Regions from separate parts of the Homo sapiens genome. Here all the other regions are reported to be linked to region 3. The links are microRNA targets in miRTarBase. Many come from high-throughput screens and were not tested one by one. Region 3 holds a microRNA gene; each other region holds the end of a gene's coding sequence.
Evidence for each region. The annotated mature microRNA hsa-miR-6843-3p reads AUGGUCUCCUGUUCUCUGCAG and lies in region 3 at 2,206-2,226, opposite strand. An mRNA with a match to its seed (bases 2 to 7 or 8) in the 3' UTR can be bound and repressed. Matches are read on the target gene's strand: a 7mer-m8 pairs with bases 2 to 8, a 7mer-A1 pairs with bases 2 to 7 and ends in A, and an 8mer does both.

Region 1: miRTarBase lists ATP1B3 as a target of hsa-miR-6843-3p. Seed matches in the 3' UTR shown: 7mer-m8 at 2,481-2,487.
Region 2: miRTarBase lists ZNF576 as a target of hsa-miR-6843-3p. Seed matches in the 3' UTR shown: 7mer-m8 at 1,856-1,862.
Region 4: the mRNA of UBA5 is a reported target of hsa-miR-6843-3p. Seed matches in the 3' UTR shown: 7mer-m8 at 2,784-2,790.
Region 5: the mRNA of TSPYL1 is a reported target of hsa-miR-6843-3p. The part of its 3' UTR that is shown has no 7-base or 8-base seed match.
Region 6: miRTarBase lists MAN2A2 as a target of hsa-miR-6843-3p. Seed matches in the 3' UTR shown: 7mer-m8 at 2,134-2,140.
Region 7: miRTarBase lists TTPAL as a target of hsa-miR-6843-3p. The part of its 3' UTR that is shown has no 7-base or 8-base seed match.

What each region holds. Positions count from the first base shown.
Region 1 is chr3:141,925,200-141,928,271 of GRCh38, reverse strand. ATP1B3 (ATPase Na+/K+ transporting subunit beta 3) reads right to left here. Exons shown (of 7, transcript NM_001679.4): 7 at 1,723-2,741. The coding sequence ends at 2,571. Among named protein-coding and RNA genes, the nearest start is that of ATP1B3, 50 kb to the right of the region's middle.
Region 2 is chr19:43,598,794-43,601,874 of GRCh38, forward strand. ZNF576 (zinc finger protein 576) reads left to right here. Exons shown (of 3, transcript NM_001145347.2): 3 at 38-2,364. The coding sequence ends at 465. Among named protein-coding and RNA genes, the nearest start is that of ZNF576, 3.7 kb to the left of the region's middle.
Region 3 is chr8:27,608,396-27,611,476 of GRCh38, forward strand. MIR6843 (microRNA 6843) reads right to left here and starts at 2,356; the gene lies at 2,206-2,356. CLU (clusterin) reads right to left here. Exons shown (of 9, transcript NM_001831.4): 2 at 2,080-2,205; 3 at 543-691. The coding sequence starts at 2,176. RefSeq lists enhancers at 634-1,340, 2,047-2,754.
Region 4 is chr3:132,676,283-132,679,361 of GRCh38, forward strand. It overlaps UBA5 (ubiquitin like modifier activating enzyme 5), which reads left to right. Exons shown (of 12, transcript NM_024818.6): 12 at 161-3,079. The coding sequence ends at 244. The region is part of intron 26 of NPHP3-ACAD11 (NPHP3-ACAD11 readthrough (NMD candidate)); the gene reads right to left. Among named protein-coding and RNA genes, the nearest start is that of UBA5, 17 kb to the left of the region's middle.
Region 5 is chr6:116,275,707-116,278,787 of GRCh38, reverse strand. It overlaps TSPYL1 (TSPY like 1), which reads left to right. Exons shown (of 1, transcript NM_003309.4): 1 at 1-3,081. The coding sequence ends at 271. It also overlaps a transcript of DSE not described here. Among named protein-coding and RNA genes, the nearest start is that of TSPYL1, 2.7 kb to the left of the region's middle.
Region 6 is chr15:90,919,584-90,922,664 of GRCh38, forward strand. MAN2A2 (mannosidase alpha class 2A member 2) reads left to right here. Exons shown (of 23, transcript NM_006122.4): 23 at 52-2,996. The coding sequence ends at 204. Among named protein-coding and RNA genes, the nearest start is that of HDDC3, 11 kb to the right of the region's middle.
Region 7 is chr20:44,489,141-44,492,221 of GRCh38, forward strand. It overlaps TTPAL (alpha tocopherol transfer protein like), which reads left to right. Exons shown (of 5, transcript NM_001039199.3): 5 at 123-3,081. The coding sequence ends at 401. Among named protein-coding and RNA genes, the nearest start is that of TTPAL, 15 kb to the left of the region's middle. RefSeq lists an enhancer at 855-964.

The DNA.
Region 1 (3,072 bases), not on the chromosome of region 3:
TGAATGAGCAGTGGTAGGTATTACCTTGGAGTTGCTACATCTATAGAGTCCCTCCTAGTGAACTGGAATCTGCATTTTAATGAGATACCCAGGTGATCTGTAAGCACATCCTGAAATGCTGAGGAAAACCTGAAGTCAGCAGCAGAAAGGCGGACTCCAGCTGTGTCCAGGCATCCTTCGTTCCGAGTCCAGTCCTTACCTGGCCCATACAGGCCCAACTCCCAGCCACTCTTCCTCCTCCATCAAGCACCACCTATCTCTTGAGATCTTTCACAAAAATAAACTTTAGGGAAGGGTGGGACCTTTGGAATAATCTAGTCTTACCCCACCTCATGGCCTCTTGCATGTCAGCGCCATCACCATCATCATGCCACGTGCTGTGTCTCAGAGCCTGTTCCCTCCTAGTTTAAGATCTTTGAGAAACCATGTCTTTTCATCTCTGTATCCTCAAAGTCTGGCTGATCCAGTCCGGTATATAGCAGGTCTGCTAAATTGTTGTTAAACTGCCTTAATTTCGATAGATGAAGCAAGCAGAGCCAGGAGAAGTTGGGGAGATCAGCTAAGATCACTGGGCAGTCAGGTGCTGATCCACGTCCAAACTTCTGAACCAGGGAGGCATACAAGATGCTTTAGTGACTTACATGTGTGTGCCATTTTTATTTGTCTCCAACACCCACCCTATGTTGGATGCCATCTCAATTCTTCTTGTGTATTGAGAATGAGTCTTTTATCTAAGCTCGTTAAAACAGAAATTCCATCCATATTTACTTCAAAAGACTCAAAAATACAATTTAATAGAATACTTAATATGAATTTCACAGGCACCAAAGTTTACAGCTGTTGAGGATGAGGTCACACTGGCCCAACTAAAGTCATGTCACCTCTCTCACATCGTAGCATTCTTTTATCCTTGTTTTACACTCTTAAGAGATAGCATAAAGAAGAAAATCAAAACCCAGAAAAGGTTTGCTGTAATTACTCCAATAATTTCCTTCAGTGAAAATCTCTTATCACTATGATTTTAGTGACAGAGGAACAAGCAGAGCTCTGACGTGGGGCTGAGTGCCCACTACTAAAGGGCAGAGGCTGCCGCCAGGCCACCAAGGCCCATCTGGCCAGGCAAGGCCACCCAGAGCCCTCACGTTTACTCCAAACGGCCATTCTTGAGCCAGCTGGGTTGGGTCCCACCCCTTCTGGCTTGCACCACCACAAAGAAAACCTCAAGAATATCTGCTTTGCCGTTTTTTTTTTTTTTTGCAGACAGAGTCTCGCTCTGTCACCAGGCTGGAGTGCAGTGGTGTGATCTCGACTCACTGCAACCTCCGCCTCTTGGGTTCAAGCGATTCTTCTGCCTCAGCCTCCCGAGTAACTGGGACTACAGGCACGCACCACTACGCCCAGCTAATTTTTATATTTTTAGTAGAGACGGGATTCCACCATGTTGGCCAGGATGGTCTCGATCTCTTGACCTTGTGATCCGCCCGCCTCGGCCTCCCAAAGTGCTGGGACTACAGGCGTGAGCCACTGCGCCCGGCTGCCTTTTTTTTTTTTTAAAAAAGGAGAAAAGTAACAATAAACAACAGCCTTAAGAAAAAACAAGAAGCAACACAGATCATATGGGAAGCACAACTTTCTCAGCCAAGTAGCCCAAATTATCACAAATAATCCTACCAAGAATACACCTAATACTGGAGGGGAAAGAATGCTTACACAAAACTGTTGTTTGCTTTGAAGCTTTGAATAAGTTCCAAGTTTTTATATTTCACAATTTATATACTTTATTACAGTCCACAGTCTGCTAAATAAAAGCAGTAACAAGATATTTCACAAACTATTGTACAAATTAAGTCTTATGAATTTAATCTCATAAAAAATTAGGTGCATAGTCACACTGGCTAACCTAAAAATGCTATTTTATCTACAGCCTAAAATAAGAGGCAGTTCCAACACTAAAAATTAATCCCAGTTTTTTTTTTTACATGTTTTACAAAAAAAAGTTTGTGCTCTTAATCAAAAAGATCGAGGCTAATTCAGCATGTAAAAAATAAATTTTACAAAGAACCCAAGATAATATTTTTCAAACACACTTTTATTTTCTTTTTTTCCTTCCTCACATACAGAACTTCTCCACATACCACATTTCTTGCAGCTATAAAGTCACTTGATGTTGGCCGGGTACCATTTTATCCCTAAAACTCTGTTGACATCAAAATATGACAGTTGTTATATCCATAAAATATTTACATAGCACGGCATATTAAGCTTTAGACACTTGGCAATTAAACCACATAAAAAGAGGACAAGACCCCCATCCTACATGTTTGGAATCAGGTGTTCACCGGTCCCTATCTGGCGACTGTACACTGGTTCAAAGGGCAGCAGAGGCAACAGGCAGTTACTTCAGAGGACACTGAACACTATGATCTGGAAGCACGTTATGATGTAACCCAATGTCATGTACCACACACCTTTCTCCAAGGTGGTCTCATAATTCTAGAATGGAAGGTCCAGCTGTTACAAAATGAAGACAGACAACACAACATTTACTCTGTGGAGATATCCTACTCATACTATGCACGTGCTGTGATTTTGAACATAACTCGTCCCAAAAACTTGTCACGATCATCCTGACTTTTTAGGTTGGCTGATCCATCAATCTTGCACTCAACTGTTACTTCTTTCCCAGTGTTGTTAGGAGCAAAGCTGACCTGAACAGCAACCAATGGCTGTAGATACCCAACCTGGCAATAAAAGGAAAATATATTAATTCAAACTCTATGGAAACTTAATACTTCTCTCTACCAGGAATTGGCTTATTCTGTAAATTTTCTTTTTGAGACTGTTGCCCAGGCTGCAGTGCAGTGGTGCAATTATGGCTCATTGAAGCCTCAACCAATCCTCCCACCTCAGTTTCCTAAGTAGCTGGGACTATAGGCACATGCCGCCACAGCCCACTAATTTTTAAATTTTTTTGTAGAGACAGGGTCTCCCTGCCCAGGCTAATCTCAAACTCCTCGCTTCAAATGGCCCTTCCACCTCACCCTCCCAAAGTGCTGGGATTACAGGTGTGAG
Region 2 (3,081 bases), not on the chromosome of region 3:
TGCTGGCCTCCCCTGACCTCTCCCCCACATTCCTCAGGCCACCTGGGGGCCCCGAAGTGCACCCGCTGCCTCATCACCTTCGCAGATTCCAAGTTCCAGGAGCGTCACATGAAGCGGGAGCACCCAGCGGACTTCGTGGCCCAGAAGCTGCAGGGGGTCCTCTTCATCTGCTTCACCTGCGCCCGCTCCTTCCCCTCCTCCAAAGCCCTAATCACCCACCAGCGCAGCCACGGTCCAGCCGCCAAGCCCACCCTGCCGGTTGCAACCACTACTGCCCAGCCCACCTTCCCTTGTCCTGACTGTGGCAAGACCTTTGGGCAGGCTGTTTCTCTGAGGCGGCACCGCCAGATGCATGAGGTCCGTGCCCCTCCTGGCACCTTCGCCTGCACAGAGTGCGGTCAGGACTTTGCTCAGGAAGCAGGGCTGCATCAACACTACATTCGGCATGCCCGGGGGGAGCTCTGAGTGCAGCTTAAGCCTCTCCACGGTGACGGGTGGCTCTGTGGCTGGTAGGACTCACCCATGATATGGGGTGCAGGAACTCTGGGGGCCCTGAAGGATTTGCTTCCCTCCCCTGGGAAGGCAGAGGGCTCTTAATAAAGAGGACCCAGAAGATTCTTATTTAGAGCTTCAGTCTTTGGAGCACACAGGGCCTTCGTGAGACAGTGAAATCAGATAATAATGAGATCTTTTGTTAAAAAAAAAAAATGGGAAGGGAGTGCGGGAGAGAAATGGTTTGTGTCTCCCTTATTCCCAGTTAAATACCTAGCTGCAGATTGTGCCATCACCCTTCATTCTTCCCAGATGGATGCCATGGGCTATGGGAGCAAATTGCCCTGGACCTTTGCCTGAATGGGGGCAGGAAAGGTGAGGTGTTGCTGGCCTGTAATGCCACCAGGTGAGTTCCAGATGTGGAGCAACTTGGGCTTTTGGGGATGGGGCAGCAAAGTTGGGAGCTGGACCCCAATTGAGTGGGGGTAGCAATTGGAGTCCTTGTGTCTCTTTTCCACCCCCTGCCATCCTCACTTAGAGGGGCCATGGCACTAGATGGCACTAGTCCCCCGATAATTTATGTCTCGTTGAAATAATTTTGTATATCATTCTAGTCCTGAAATATTTTTTTCATATGTGTAGGTGAAATGGTATGAATAAGCTAACAGGAATAGTATCTAAAAACAGAAAACATCCATATTAAAATGTCTAAACAGGGAGCTCTGGCTTTTGAGTGGGAATTTCCAGAGAACATAAGGGTGTGGGCAGGTGGGGGAACTCAGGCCAGAGTTGGCCTCGCTTTGTGGGGAAACTGGTTTGGAATCAAACAGAGATACCTTCTGTTTCGGGTTTTATTTGGCCAACACTGGGAGATTTCCCATTAAGATCCTATTTTCAGCTCTCTTGAAAGGCCCAACCTAGGCTGACATTGTCAGCAGGGGCAGGACAGAAGTTACAACAGGCTGGAGGGAGCAGTGGGTGTCACCCTCAACTGGAGATGAGTCCCACCAGGCCAGTTTTACCCCCTTAGTTACCTGCCCTGCACCTGCAGACAATGGTCGATGCCTTGCATATAATACTTATAGACTCTGTTTATGTTGAGGGATGTTTTTAAAGCCCACAGGTGAGGTGGATGTGGTAGACTGATCACTGTCTCTGTTTTTAGCTAGGCACACAGTAGCTGAAAAGACTGCATTTCCCAGATTCCTTTGCAGCTAGATGTGGCCTTGTGACTGATTTCTGGCTAAATTCCTGGGTAGAACAGTCAAGCTTAAGAAAGGGACGGCTGGGCACAGTGGCTCACGCCTGTAATCCCAGCACTTTGTGAGGCTGAGGCCGGTGGATCACCTGAGGTCAGGAGTTTGAGACCAGCCTGGCCAACATGGTGAAACCCTGTCTCTACCAAAAATACAAAAATTAGCCGGGTGTGGTGGCATATGCCTGTAATCCCAGCTACTTGGGAGGCTGAGGCAGGAGAATTGCTTGAACCTGGGAGACAGGTTGCAGTGAGCCAAGATCGTGCCATTGCACTTCAGCCTGGGTGACAGAGTGAGACTGTTTAAAAAAAAAGAAAAGAAAGGGACATACCTTTTTTCCACCTTCCTAACTGTAATACGGAAATGGTATCCAGCCATCTCAGACCATAAGGATAAGAGCAACACGTGGGAAGACAGAGCAACAAGATAGGAGCCTGGGTCTCTCGTCAATTTCAAGGAGCACAGCCACCATACCAGCCCACTTCCATATTGCTATCTAAGAAAGAAACTTCTATCTTATTTAAGCCACCATTATTTTGGGTCTCTGTCACATGCAACAGAATTTACAGCCTAAGACAGGGGTCTGCAAACTATGGCCAACTCTAGCCTGCTGCCTGGTTTTGCAAATAAAATTTTATTTGAACAGTTTTATACTCATTCACTTATGTATCGTTGATGGCTGCTTTTGCCTAGAACAGCAGATCTGCATAGTTGCAACAGAGATTTTAAGGCCTACAGAACTTAAAATAGTTACCATCTAGCCCTTTACAGGAGAAGTTTGCCAACCCCTGGTCTAATAAGACATTCAACCTACTCTGAGTCTGGAAGCAGAAATTTCCATCCTGGGAACCACCATCTTTACCAGGTAGGTAGGTAGGTAGGGTATGTGTGTGTGTGTGTGTTTTGGGGCAGGGCTACCCTGGATCTCTTTGCTGGGGTGACTTATGGGGAGACTGGTTGGAGTTAGTAGACCATCAGTTTTTTTCAAGATACCAACTTCATGAAGAGCCAGATATTTCCTCTGGCTCCTGGTGAATGCTCCGAAGTTTCCAACCCAGATATTGTCACACTACCCCCACAGTGGCTCCCCTAAACCAAACCTAAGTATCTAATCCCACATGCTCTCCCAAGATAGCAGCCTGCCCAAGTACACCCTGGGCTTCCTGTTCTCTCCAGACATCACAGATTCTCTAAATAGCATCACTGATGACATCCACATCTTTATCTGCAGCCCAAACCCCAGACATAAGATATAACCACTTGAATAAACAAATGGAGATCTCAAACTTAAAATGGGTCAACAGGACTCCTGCGGCCCAACCTGCACCACCAT
Region 3 (3,081 bases):
GACTTGATTTCTTAAATAAGTTGTTCATTGAATTATAGTGTTTTAGTTTTGTTGAATCATTAAGCACAGGCTAGACCTGCTATATCCACTACTGGGCTTAAGATGTTTCTTTATGAAGTAGTCCAGAACTCTAGCAAGACGTGGGGTGCTGTGTGCCTGCCTTAACCCTAACCATATCACCCCTATTAGATAAGCTTCCTGAAGGTTGGACGCCACGCCTGTCTGGGCCCCTGCCGCCACCCCATCCAGAGCCTGCTTGGAACTAGCATGTGATCAGGGCTTAGAAACATCTATTGAAATGAATCTGGGCATTAGGCCCTGGGCCAGGCTCATAACAAAACCAGATCCAAGATCTCACTCCCTGATGCTTTCAGAAGCAAATGAACCTTCCCTGCTTCTTAATTGCAGCCTCAGCATCAGCTGACACAGCCTGGGAGGACTGCGGGTCACCATGGCAACCCAGCAGGGCACCGCGCAGTGACCCCCTCCCTCCCCTCCAGTGGGATGGTCAAGGCAGGGAGGCGGTAGCGGCTCCTCCTGACCTCTTTCTTCTTCTTGGCTTCTTCTAGGTTGCTGAGCAGTGTCTTGCGCTCTTCGTTTGTTTTTTCTATGAGAGTCTTTATCTGTTTCACCCCGTTGACAGCATTTTGAATTTCCTTATTGACGTACTTACTTCCCTGATTGGACATTTCTGCAAGAGAAGTGCAAGAGGCAGAATGAGGCGAGAGGAAGAGGTGGCCTCAGGACCCTGGAATGAGCTGGATGGCCAGAAAGGCCCGTTCAGTTCAGGGGCTGTCAAGGCTGGGACCCCCACTCCTGCCAGCAGGCAGCAGCATGGCCCCAGCCTTGCCCTGGCACAGGCTCCCATCACAGGCTCCTTGCTGACTGCACCCTACTGCTTAGAAATGCAGACCATGGGAGCCGGCACACCCAGAGTTATGCCCAGCCACTGCCATGTGCCCCTGGAGAATGAGCTGGGTGCAGAAGAAACTTGGCAAGGAAAAAAAAAAACCCAGAAGTGTCAGCTTTGCAGCATCAAAATATAAAATATTGTTATTTTGGACACAAATCTTTCTAGAGTTCAGTTTAAACAGATATGTGTATTTCTTTGTTCCAATGCAGTGCCAGGCGACAGGAATAAGAAGATGAGTAAATGAGTAAGGTATAGCACTGGTGACAAATGCAGCGAAACACTGTGTCACCTAAGTGCTACTTCACTGGTGTTTATCCCATGCCAAGCACTGCGCCAAACACTTCATGTGCAGTTTACATAATGCTCCAGCCCCCCGCCGTGCCCACTTCGCAGAGGGAGACATGGGAAGTGTGATATGATAAAGGGTCAAAGTGTTCATCAGGTAGGAGGAGTATGTTCTGGAGGTCTAACATACAGGTGGTGCTTATAGTTAATAACACCATATCATAACTGGAAATTTGCTAAGAAAGTAGATTTTAAGTCTTCCCACCGTCCCACCATAAAAAGTGGTCATCATTTCAATGTATGTGCATTTCAAAACATCACGTCATATACCTTAAATATACACAATTTTTATTTGTTAATTATATCTCAATAAAATGGGGGGTGGGGGGAGTGTCATGAGATCAAGATAGTGGCCCAAAGTCACCCAGCTGAGAAGAGGTGAAACAGACTCACACCCATGTCTGATCTGGGTTTTTAACAATGATCCTGCAGAAACCGTCAGCTCACAGGAGGGATAAGCTCTGGGCACTCCAAAGGGGAGAGGGATAAGAGCTCCGGTGGTCCAGACACAGCTTCGTGGAGGAGGCCTGGGAGCTGGGCTAAGGGGCCTGGGAGGGGAAGAGCTGAATGAAATGCAACAGCCGAAAGTGCTTGGGAAATGCCTGCAAATGCCGGCAGTCTGATGCACGCAGAGCCTGAACCAGGGGCCTCGGAGCTGAGGCTCAGAGTGGGCCCAGACACAGGCACCCAGACCCAGTGCACAAGATAAAAACGGTCTGTAACACTGGGGCCTGATAGAGAGGCACTGAGCAGAATTAGCTACCCTGCCCTCTGACCTCATCACCCTGTGGCCAGAGGAACATCATGCTTGGTCTACTCACCCTGGAGCTCATTGTCTGAGACCGTCTGGTCCCCCAGGACCTGCCCACTCTCCCAGGTCAGCAGCAGCCCCACAAACAGCAGCAGAGTCTTCATCATGCCTCCAATTCTGGAGTCTTTGCACGCCTCTGCAGAGAACAGGAGACCATCATGGGAACAGCTAGACAGCCTGCTGGCGTCCCGCCCACCTGCTGCCTGCAGCAGCTCCCCAGGGCCTCACTGCCCTCAGCTGTCCCCACAGCAGGCACTGCTGCACTTTTATTCCTGAGGAAATGGGGGGAAATGACCAGACTTGCCATGGACACCTCGAATGAAAGCGAAGGCAGGAGGTGCAGGGAGGGAGGGACTGCAGGACAGCAATGTTGAGTGGAAGAAACAAGAACCCTGGCATCGGAGGAACCAGGCTCTTGTCCAAGCCACATCCTCCCCGACAATCAGCGAGGCACACAGGCTTTCTGCATCCTGGCCTCCTTGTCCAGAGTGGTATCGATCATGTCAGACACTGAAAATACCCCCCTTAGGTCATGCATCCGTCCCTCCCCATGCCACCTCCACAGAGGGACTGCATCCCAGAGACCAGCCACGTCCTCTGCAATGTGCACCTAAACCTTCACCCCAGCAGACGCTCCCCATTCACCACAGCGCTGCAGCCCCCAGGGAGTCTCAGCACCACCTGAACTTGACTTTCAAGAGCCGGAGGCAACAGCAGCCAGCCCTTCACACCGAATCCATCTGCATCCCTAGTGGGAGACTTGGGCCGGGCTGCCTGTGCATTCAGGGGTGGAAGTAGTGGAAGCCAGGAAGGACAATTCCCTTCGGAGAGTAGAGAGGGTTCGCAGTGGCCCGAGGAGCAGGCTTCCCAGAGAAAGTCCCTTTGGAAGGATGAGTCCTCTTGCTCTGCCAGGCCCTCCACACTGCCCATCCCCTCTAAGCCGACAGCAGGCTGCCCTGCCAGTGTTCCTGCCACCACTGGGCTGGCTGCCCTGAGCCACGGGGCACAGGCC
Region 4 (3,079 bases), not on the chromosome of region 3:
AAAGACTCTGTCTTTCTTCTAAAAATTAGAAGATAGTTGTTAAAGAAAATTTACTTTATAACCTTGTTGAGCATGGTCAAAACTTGCTGATTATATATTCCTAAGCATCAAGAATTCTATATGGTTCTTTTTTCACTGTATTTCCCTTATTTGTCAATAGCAAGAAGATTCTGTCACTGAGTTAACAGTGGAAGATTCTGGTGAAAGCTTGGAAGACCTCATGGCCAAAATGAAGAATATGTAGATAATGGACTGGGATATATTGTATTTCTCATGTTAAAGCCTCTTCCCTTGAAATTAAAAAAAAATTTTAACTGATAAAACTTAGGGCAACATTAATTAATGTATATTCTTACCTGAATTGTTATACTTTTTGAAAATCCTGTGACTTGCCTGTTTCTCCCCGCTCCAACGAAATCATTAACTCTCCTAAAATGTGTTTCATTCTAGTAAGAAAACCTCAAAGGATATTGTAGGATATAAATCTTACTTGAAAACATAGCTGTTGAAATGTTTTGGCCTTTTGGAGTGGGGGAAGGACAAATCTGATCCTGTAATCTTTTTCTTTCCAGTAATCCCTTGTGTCTGTTGCATGAGGACATGGACAATAAAGTAGTATATGATCCTCAGATACAGGGAGAAGGACAAGGCATACAGCTTATTGATTAGAGCTGGCAAGCATCTGCTCATTATGTTTGGAATTGCTTTCTATAAGAAAATTGCCCACTACTACTAACTTGATCAACAATGAATTCAAAATAGTTAACCTATGAAATAACATCCTCTCAAATGTTTGCTGATGAAGTACAAGTTGAAATGTAGTTATTGGAAAAGTCTGTAACCTGTGGATCATATATATTCAAAGTGAGACAAAGGCAAATAAAAAGCAGCTATTTTCATGAATAGACAAAGTTGATTTCAGGAAGTATAAATTATATTCTGCACCGAACAAGGAACAGAAATTATTGCATCTGTGGAACATATATCTGGAGTTACTATACTTTACTGAAGAGCAAGGCATAAATTTAGACTAAAATCCATCCAGATTACACTCATTCTTTAGGCTACTCCTGGATACTTCATTTAAATTTGATTTTCGAGGTAGTGAGATGTCGGCAAGGTTTGTCCTGTATATTAGGAATAAAGGAAAAGTTCTAAACTGCCTCTGCAATGACTTGTAGTCAGTGGAAGAGTATCACTTTCCCCTGATCATGACCACTAAACTGTAAATTGATATAAATTAGTTTTCTCTCGAGTTACACCCAAGTAATGAAGACTTAAGAGAACCTTGGTTGAAATAAATTTCCAATAGTTTGGAGACTCATAAATACCATGCAGGTGTAACCACTGCCAATAGGCTGTTTCTATGCTTATTTCCTATTTTGATTTTTACTTTGAAGATAGGAATATCTAAATTATATCTCTAGGGAGAAAATGTTGTAAAAAATTAAAAGTACATCCCTGATTGTAAAATAAAGTTCAAAAAACTGATTTCAGAAAGTCTCAACTACCAAATGTTTTCAATATATTAGTTTTGAGATGCTAGGATTATACTGTGATTCTTATGTTTATAGTAAAGTCTGGAAAGCAGAAGGATAGTTTTTTTAGCCTGGAAACTTATTTATGTTGCCTTGGTGAGTCTTCTATCATTTTTTAAAAATTTAGCTTATTGAACTGTAAAATAGCTTTTCTAGTATGAGAGATGTTTTGAATTTAAAAAATGAAATGCAGTTTTTCAAAAATAAATTTCCTTTGGAAATTCTTGCATATCAATTTAGTAAGGTTTTATAAAATTTTACAATTTGATAAAGTATCACATCTAGAATTCACTGTCTTCTTTTATCTGCTCTCAAGTTGGCATTGCATCACTGCCTGTGTCTTACACTGCACCAAATGTTACCTAATTGACCTAACTTTTTTTGTCTAATATCTTTCATTAAAAACAATTGGATTATTTAACCAGAAAAAAAATCTGGTAATAGAGATGTTGCTATCCTAGAATACTCTCTTGACAGTCTGTATGCCATGAAAACTTGCATAAGAAGGCAGCTGATTACGAAAAATTAATCATCATTGAATTTAGTATTACTAAACTCATAGCATTTGTCCAGATTTGTAAACACTATTGATTCTAATGTGAAAGATGGAAAAGCAGTCCCAGAATTGGCTTAGCACAGAGACTCTAAATGATAGTAAAACAACATATTCAACTTTAATTCCTGTCTTATTGTTAATGGGAAGTTAGTTATGGTTCTACTTAAATGTTGTAGAGAAAATAAGTATTACTAGTTTCTTCTCATAAAAATACTCCCTGGATACGTACACTGAACAACACAAAAAACGTAATGGCCACTTAAGAATATTTATTTATTTATTTATTTTTTTGAGACAGAGTCTCACTCTGTTGCCCAGGCTGGAGTGCAGTGGCACGATCTCAGCTCACCACATCCTCCGCCTCCCAGGTTCAAGCGATTCTCCTGCCTCAGCCTCCCAAGTAGCTGGGATTACAGGTGCCCGCCACCACGCATGGCTAATTTTTGTATTTTTAGTAGAGGCGAGGTTTCACCATGTTGGCCAGGCTGGTCTTGAACTCCTGACCTCAGGTGATCCACCCATCTTGGCCTCCCAAAGTGCTGGGATTATAGGTGTGAGCCACCACGCCCAGCCAAGAATATTTACTAAAGGAAGCTTTGACCCCTGCATCACATTTTTTTCATATTTCCCTTTCTGTAATCTCAGCACTTTGGGAGGCTGAGGTGGGTAGGTCAAGAGGTCAGGAGTTCGAGACCAGCCTGACCAACATGGCAAAACCCCGTCTCTACTAAAAATACAAAAATTAGCCGGGCGTGGTGGTGCGTGACTGTAATCCCAGCTACTTAGGAGGCTGAGGCAGGAGAATCGCTTGAACCTGGGAGGCAGAGGTTGCAGTGAGCTGAGATAGTGCCACTGCACTCCAGTCTGGAAAACAGAGTGAGACTCTGTCTCAAAAAAAAAGGTATTGATGAATAAAAATTATAACTAGAATAAGTACTCTAACAATTCAGATTTATAATTGAGTTGTCTGAAAGCTACCTTTTTC
Region 5 (3,081 bases), not on the chromosome of region 3:
GGTGTCTCTTTCTACTCCAATTATATGGCGCAGGGGGCATGAACCCCAGTCCTTCATTCGCAGAAACCAAGACCTCATCTGCAGCTTCTTCACTTGGTTTTCAGACCACAGCCTTCCAGAGTCCGACAAAATTGCTGAGATTATTAAAGAGGATCTGTGGCCAAATCCACTGCAATACTACCTGTTGCGTGAAGGAGTCCGTAGAGCCCGACGTCGCCCGCTAAGGGAGCCTGTAGAGATCCCCAGGCCCTTTGGGTTCCAGTCTGGTTAACATTTGCCCTTGGGAATACTCCTGCACAAGGTCTCCTACCACCTTCTGCTGGACCTGTGCTTGGGCATCAGCAATGAGTATGCCTTCTATTGTGCTTTGTTTTTGCTGACTTTTCTGCACCCTGTTTCCTTTGGATATTCAGTTCTCTCAACCTCAAGATTGAGACGGTGGTGGGTATGCTTCTCCACTTCCATATGACCTTCATGCTGTTCTGGAATATCACATGCTACGAGGTCATCCTTCACACTACTTGTAAGCCAAGCAAATGATACTGTAGATTGTACTGCCTTTATCTGCACTGCTTGGACCCTGTTTATTCCCAGGGCCTCTGAACTGGTTGCTGTCACTTGGATTTCTAGCTTTGGGAGCCTGTTCCACCTACTCAGCTCTGCATTGAGCAGTATGGGCACATGCCCTGTGGACAGTTACTGGACGTTAATGAACTCAGAGGAGAAAAGCAGTGAGCCACTTGTTCTGTGTGATTTATGGTACTTCATTGCTCTTCCTTCACCTCTAGTCACTTTCTATTGCTACCTGCCCTACATTGGCTCCTGCCAAGGTCCCTCTCTCTCCCTGTTTTCCTTTTTTTTTTTTTTTTTTTTTTTTTTGAGACGGAGGACGGAGTCTTGCTCTGTCGCCCAGGTTGGAGTGCAGTGGCGCGATCTCGGCTCACTGCAACCTCCACCTCCCGGGTTCAAGCGATTCTCCTGCCTCAGCCTCCCGAGTAGCTGGGACTACAGGCGCGCGCCGCCACGCCCGGCTAATTTTTATATTTTTAGTAGAGACGGGGTTTCACCATGCTGGCCAGGCTGGTCTCGAACCCCGATCTCGTGATCCGCCCTCCTTAGCCTCCCAATCCTCTCTTAAAAAAGTGATAGCTCAGAAACATTTGTAAAAGCAAGGTTTTTATTTCATTTTGGCTCTGTCATTTTCAGAGGCAAAGAAGTTGGCCTGTAAAATAGAGTGCTAGAGCTCTTACGCCCCTCCCCTTCTTCCCAACTTCCTACTTCCTAGCCCTTTTATCAACTCCTAGAATAGTTAAAGAGAGACACATCTAGATGGGATGAAAGGTGCCCTAAGCAGGAGAAACTGAACAAAAGGCTAGAGGCATGGGCCAGGTAAAAATTGGGCCTAGAGTGAAGACTGTGCTGTCGTTAAGAGCTTTCGAGGAAGGAGTACTTACTCCCCAATGATGATGAATGGAAAAATACTTTTCAGGGAGAATTGAAGGGGTTAAAGTGTTAAATATGTTGCCTAGACAAGGGTTCTTTAAAGAAAGACAGCGCAACTTTGAATGCTTTCTTACTTGTTTTGTGACCTAATTTATGTGGAAGATTGTTATTTCATTAGGATTTAGTAAAATTTTTTTTTCTGATTCTAAACTTATTGTGAAAATTGAGCTGTACAGATATTCTTTTGATTTCAATTGGGAACATTTGGAAGAACAACAGTCTTACTTGCCTGTACAATATAGAGACATATGAATAGTCATAACAGTTTTCAACTTGTTCTTGTTTCTGTTAAACTATATTCCTAGAAACATAGTTTGAACAACTTGGTCTTTGTTAGGCTTGTCAAATTGCCTTCATGGAAAAATAATCTACAAAAGTATGGTTTAATTGATTGTCTTACATGATAATTTTCCCTGGTAACAACTTAGTAAGTGATATATCTTTTTTCCTAAATTGCTTAAATACTGTGAAATTGCTCTGACAAATTGGAAGTGTACCATTGGCATATTTGTCTTCCTTTTTATGCATGATGGTAAAATAAAAGCATGTTGTTCTGCTAGATTTCTTATTTTTCACCTTACCCATAAATGTAATGCTTGAATGAAGTTGTTCATATTAATTAAAAATTATGGAATCATTAAAGTCCTTTAATCCATTAAAGTTCTTAATGGATTAAAATCATTAAAGTTCTTAATGGATTAAAATCATTAAAGTCCTTAAATTGATGTTAACTAAAAATTACAGAATCATTAAAGTCCTTAAATGGACACAATAGACATTATCCCAAAGAGAAGAAAGCAGGGCACGGTATGTTTGGTACCTTCCAAGGTAGTTTGCCTTAAAACGTTAGCAGTTGCAACTGCTTACTCAATCACTTTTTTCCATGTAGTTTATGCAGCACAACCTCCCCTTCAGTTGCTCAAATCCTCCATTTCTGTCTCCATAAATTATATTCTCAGGTTATTCAGGCTCTTCTTTTTATTAACTTGTATGCAGGGAGTACCTATCATATGTGATGTACTCCTCTATTTTCATACTTTCTCATCTGTAAAAACTTCCTTTTTTTCTTTAAACTTCCTCACTGTTCTCTTCTGTCAAATCCTTCAAGGCCTGCCCTTGGTAATTCCTCTGCCAAAGTCTTTCTGTTCCCCATAGAGGAGATAAATGTTTCTTTATGCACTTAGTGTACTTTGGAGGGACCTCTGTTCTAGAAAATTAACATAATTATTCATTACAGTGAATTCCACAAATAGAGAAAAAGAGTAAGAAGATAAAGTCCATTCCCTTCTTTGGGGAACTGGGGAAGGACTGATAAGCAAACAAAGAATTAACAGAGTGATACAGTAAAATAAAATACAGAGATTATATTTTCATGTTTTTCCCATGTTCACTCTTTTCCTCTCAGTAGTTTGGAAACTTTGTGAAAGTGGAGATGCAGTGCATTTTACATGGTTCATTGCATCTAGCATTTTTTTTTTTTTTTTTTGAGATAGAGTCCCACTCTTGCCCAGGCTGGAGCGCAAGTGGCGCGATCTCGGCTCACTGCAACTTCCGCCTCCCGGTTTCAAGCAGTTCTCC
Region 6 (3,081 bases), not on the chromosome of region 3:
TTTAGTGTCTCGGCACCTAGCACAACCCTGCCCCTTCTCTGCTCTCCACAGGTAGCCCTGGGCAGCCTTTTCCATGGCCTGGATGTGGTATTCCTTCAGCCAACCTCCTTGACGTTACTGTACCCTCTGGCCTCCCCGTCCAACAGCACTGACGTCTATTTGGAGCCCATGGAGATTGCTACCTTTCGCCTCCGCTTGGGTTAGGGCTTCTTGTGGCCTGAAGAGAAAGTTCATTCACAGAGACTGCCTCTTAACATGAAGATCATTGGACAAGCCACACGGGTATCCCATCCCGATCTGCCTCCCAGAACTGTGACACACTGGGCTCTGCCCTCATTTTCTGTTTATTGCTGCTGCTGTGTTTTCGGCGCAACCCACAAACCCAGTGATGGGTAAATAGGGCAGACGCCAGTGAGATCAGGGAGAGAAGGCCCTTGGTCAGAGTGGGCAGTGCCAGGCTCTGCTTTGGGTTGTGAGTGGACACCCAACTGGGCACAGGCTCAGGCACCCATCCTTTTTCCAAACAGGGATATAGAAGTGGTGGAAGCAGACAGAAGAGGTAAGGGAGGCTAAGTGGGTAACAGCCCAGCATCAGGGTCACTGTGGCAACAGCAGGCTCTAGGGGAATCCTGTGGTTATGTAGAGACTCCATGTCCTGGTGTGATGAGCAGGATCAGAGTGACTCTGGGAGGACAGGGGTGGGGACCCAGAGTTAGCAGTGGGGATGGAGCAGTAGAAGGAATCACTGTTTCTCCTAGGAGTCTGAAGGCCTCGCTGCTTTCTGTGATGGCTTTGCAGTAAGTGCCGCCTGGCCTGCATGCATTGGCTAACAGGCTGCAGAATGGCAGGAAGGACTCGCTAGAGATTGTCATGGCCAGAGATCATAGGTCACTTCAGGTAGCAAGACCCCTGGCAAACTGGGCACTTGGCCTATGTACTGATTTGTGGGATGGTGGCAGGGGTGTGGGGTCCTTCACCCTGCCTGAATTCTCTTTGGCTTCTGTGCTCTGTATGCTGCTGTCCCCAAGGGCTCTTTCTTATTATGGCAGGGAGTGGGGATTGGTCCTACTTTCTTTCTCTGGAAAGGAAAGCCTCCAAGACTCCATGTGCTTGGGCAGCTTGAGAAGGCGTTCAGCACCACGCCTAGCAGGCAGACCTTGAAGCCTCACCTTTAGTCTATCTGCAGAGGTATTCAGTTCCTGGCACAGGGGACTAGGGGCATGTAGAGTATATGAGGAGGCAGTATGGCTGTGCAGGAGCCTTCATTTCAGCTTCAATTAATAGGGAAGAATTTATGATAGCTCTATAGATGCTGAAAAGGTATTTCGTAAGATTTAAAATCCATCCCTTATTAAAACTCTTAGTAAATTAAGTCTGGAAAGAAACACCCTAATCTAGATAAAGGTCTGTTTCAGAAACCAACAGTGATGGCATTCTAAAGAGTCAGACGCCACAGGCATTCCCATTAAAGTCAGAAACTAGCCAAGGGCAAGCTATTATTCAGCAGTGTCCCGGCACTACTAACCCCTGCAACAAGCCAGATGAGGAACATAAGGAAGAATTATAATTGTCATTATTTGTAGACAATAAAACTGCCTACCTGTAAAACCTAAGAATCAACTGAAGACCTGTTAAGAGTATTCTGTAAGTCAACCCAATGATACACATCATGTTCCTGTCCACATACTGGTTTTCCCCAAATCAGCTGATAAATTCAGTGTAATTCCAATGAGATTGAAACTTTGGAATTGACAGTTCTAAAGTGCATTTGGGAGAGTGAATGTGTGAGAACACTAAGACCACTCTGAACGATGATAATGAGTTGGGGGGTGGACTGCTCGGGGGTGATCCTGCCAGATTCCCAGAGGATTCTCACGCCACCATTACCTCACTCAGTGTGACCTGGAGGGGGTCAGACAGACGGGAGAGTCCAGAAACAGACCCAGGGCTACAGGAATTTAGTATATGGTAAGAGGGATGTTTTAAGTGGGGAAAAAGGTGGATTATTTAATAAACAGCACTTTTAGACAACTAGCTATCAAAGCTAGATCTCAGCTGGGTGCGATGGCTCACGCCTGTAATCCCGGCACTTTGGGAGGCCAAGGTGGGTGGATCACTTGAGGTCAGGAGTTCGAGACCAGCCTGGCCAAGATGGCGAAACCCTGTGTCTACTAAAAATACAAAAACTAGCCAGGAATGGTGGCGCGCGCCTGTAATCCCAGTTACTTAGGAGGCTGAGGCAGGAGAATCACATCAACCTGGGAGGCGGAGGTTGCAGTGAGCTTAGATCATGCCACCATGCCACTGCACTCCAGCCTGGGTGACACAGCCAAAAAAAAAACCACTAAGTTAGATCTCTACCTCACAGTGTCCATACAAATTAGTTCCAGAGGGAAGATATACCACAAAATTACTCAAAAATTTTTATACCTCTGGTGTGGGACGGTCTTTTCTAAACTTTAACATGAGACTTAAAAGATATAATAAGGGAAAAGATAAGCAGATTTCGCAACCAAAAAATATCGAAAGTCTCTGTGTGATGGAAAACATCAAGGTTAAAACACAAATGACAGATATGGAAGAAAATATTTGCAGCACATAAAAAAATCAACGAGTACAATTACTTTAGGAGAAAAGCTTGCTTCAGGGTCCTTAGAGAAAGTCACTGGGGCCTGCCAAGCTGCCACCTAAAGACAAGAGTGAGAGGGCTGAGTTCTTCCAGGTCATCAGAGTTGTTGCTGCCCGTATTAGGCCACACAGTGGAACCCCATTTATATCATAGCAGAAGAAATAGGATTATCAATGTGAACTGCTTAGCATGGTGCCTGGTATATACGAGAGCTCCACAAATGTGAGCTATAATCCTACTAGTAAAGGATGCTAAGCAGTTCCACTGTGGCAGGTGTCATTTGCTAGTAGAATTTGTAATCAAACAATAGGAGGGGAATCTGTGAACGCCTAGAAAATGAGCAGAATAAAGGATATTATCTTTGGAAGTCTTAGATGTGCAATGAAATTATTTGTCTGACAGAAACGAATGCTGAATTCTATTTACTTAAGCCTTTAAAATGACTTAAGGCA
Region 7 (3,081 bases), not on the chromosome of region 3:
GTTGCCATTAACATTTCCTTTCTTCATTCAACAGATATTTATTTGAGCACCTACCATGGAGGAGATTTCTGCATTCCTGATTAACCTAAGGACATGTGTGTTTTCATTTCATTCCCTTTTAGTTCTTCCTCCATGGGTCTGACTTGAACTCTCTCCACACAAACCTTCCAAGAAGCATCCTCCCCAAGGAGTATGGGGGCACGGCTGGGGAGCTGGACACTGCCACCTGGAACGCGGTACTGCTGGCTTCAGAAGACGATTTTGTGAAAGAGTTCTGCCAACCTGTTCCTGCCTGTGACAGCATCCTGGGCCAGACGCTGCTGCCCGAGGGCCTGACCTCAGATGCACAGTGTGACGACTCCTTGCGAGCTGTGAAGTCACAGCTGTACTCCTGCTACTAGCCCGTCCCCCAGGGTCACCATCTTTAATTCTTTTCCTTCTTTTCTTTGGAGAGGCACAAGGAGAATTTAAGGGTCCATGGATTCAGTCTTGCTCCTTGTAATTAAACTGCAGGATGGAGGAACAGCCTGAGATATGAGCATGAGCCCATTTTGGGGTAAGCCTTTGGTTACTTTAATTACTCCATGGAAGACATGGAAAATGTCCCCACTGATTCTTAAACATTTGGAATCCCAGTCTGCAACTATTAATCTGGAGGCTATATCTATTTTGTTTTGCTTTTTGGTTGGGGGGTGGTGATCTGGTTCTTACACATCTTGGAAGCAAGAACAATCAGGACCAAAGTCACTTTGATCCCACTTTTCCAGGAGAAAAACCACCTGTTTGGCCAGTGAGAACTACTTGTATGAAATAATTTGGCCAAACCTTCAGTGTGACCAAATGTGAGACTGGGAGTTTGTGTTTTTCACAGGAACCCTAAGTATAGACCTCTGCTGCTCATCAGGAAACTTACTGGAGATGAAGGCCCCAGCTGTTGTCACCGGGTTTGGAAAGCACCTTAACTGAATCATGTAAGCATCAGGACATAAGCAGCACTTTGTGGTCAAATGTGGAAGCCGGAGACTTCAAAGCACCTCTGGGACCCACTGGTTGAAGTTTGCAATAGAAACTTAAGTTTTCCCAAATCCATAAAGCCTTAGCCCTGGTTCTCAATAGAATCAGGGACCTAGCAGGAAATGATTTTACTCAACCTAAAATGCTGGATCCCAGGCCCGTGTAGCTATAAGAATTCTGGCCTGGATCCCAGGTGTACAACTATGGACAAGATATGGGCCTCTACTTTCTCCTCTATAAAATGAGGCTGGATGAAATGTCAGCTAGGGCCATTTTGGCTGCTGAGGCTCTGGGATTTGGTTTAGTTACTGAATGTTAGATTTTCTGCCTAGAAAGATAACTATCTAGATACAAGTGGTTGGATCCTGTTTTTGTTTGTGGTACATGTGTCTTTCCAAGAGAGATGTGTCACCAATTAGCCCTGCCTTTAAAGAAACTATTATGTGTATTCCTGGGACTCACTGACACCAATTTTCTTTTTATAGTGATGGTTCAATTTTGAAAAGATGGCTTTTGTGAGGCCAGGTTAAGGTGACCAGGATCTTGTATGATGAATTCCTTCCATCCCTGAGACTCTGGTACTATATTGTAAACCTGGCTACAGTAGTTAATTACTTGAGATTCTTTAATTTTGGTCTCTGAGCTGGGCGTGGTGGTTCATGCCTGTAATCCCAGCACTTTGGGAGGCCAAGGTGTGCGGATCACAAGGTCAGGAGTTCGAGACCCGCCTGGCCAAGATGGTGAAACCCCATCTCTACTAAAAATACAAAAATTAGCTGGGCGTGGTGGCGGGCTCCTGTAGTCCCAGCTACTCGGGAGGCTGAGGCAGAAGAATCACGTGAACCCAGGAGGCAGAAGTGGCAGTGAGCCAAGATCGCACCACTGCACTCCAGCCTGGGCGACAGAGCAAGACTCTGCCTCAAAAAAAAAAAAAAAAAAAAAAAATTTTTTTTTTTTTGGTCTCTGGAAATGAACACAAGGGCAGGTTATTCCTGGGTCACTTCTGGGCCCCCCTGCCCTCCCAGCCCCACTTGAGTTTCTCTCTCTGGTGTGGGTGAACCAGTCAGCCTGAATGTTCTGCATTTCAGCACTTTAGAACCTCCCTGTGAAGATTTTAGCCTTAGCCCAAACATCAAATTAGACGGTTCACATGATGGTTTTTGACCTATTTCCTTTCTAATGTATTCCACATGATCATGGTGTTAAATAGTGAAAAGTACTGTGTTGTGTGTGCACCTTCTCCGTGCATTTATTAGACTAACCAGTCAAGCAGACAGCTCAGTTAGGGAGAAAACAATACTCTGAAATTTGAAGGCCAATCTGTTGTTACTAAGCTGTTTATCTCTATTGCCTTTTTAAATGTCTGGATAAGTTGTTGGTGGAAATTAAGTTACTTAACCTCATTAATACCAATTCTAGAGAAAGTTCTTTTCACCATGGATAGTAACCCTGGATCCTCTACGGTACTGGCTGAGCTGGAAGTGCCAAAAAGCACTCCTGGCTGCTTCTGGTTCCATCTGATGATGATGTGACACACACTGCTGAAAAGGCCCAAGCAGGGCAAGTGGGATGGCTGAAGGAGGGAAGGAGGGGGTTCAGAACCCACTGGCCTGGATGGGAGAACTGGGTGGAGGCTTCCCCAAGAGGGAAGACAGATAAACAAAACAAAACAAAAACTGGGTAAAGAGGAATGAATCACTCAGCCCTGATGTTTCAATTCTACACTGCATTCCTGGCCAGTCGCATTTGTTTTAATGCAGGCATGGCCACAGCTCTCCTAGAGAATTATCTCAAAGACCAGAAGGGACCTGGAGAGGCCTATTTCTTAGGTTTTTCCAGTTGGACAAGGAAGGAGTGGTTTCACTCAGCTTCTAGAAGGAGTTGGAGCCTAAGTTTATCTGCCTCCGGGAGCTGCTTGCTTTGTTTTGGCTCCGAAGAGGTATCAGATAGTTTTGACACCTCAGGAAACTTGAACCAAGCTGTGAAACCAAGACCTCCCTGCGTGAAAATCAAGGTGGTCTCCTTGTGGCTTCACCAGGATGTTTGTGTCAGGCTGTCTCAGCAGGG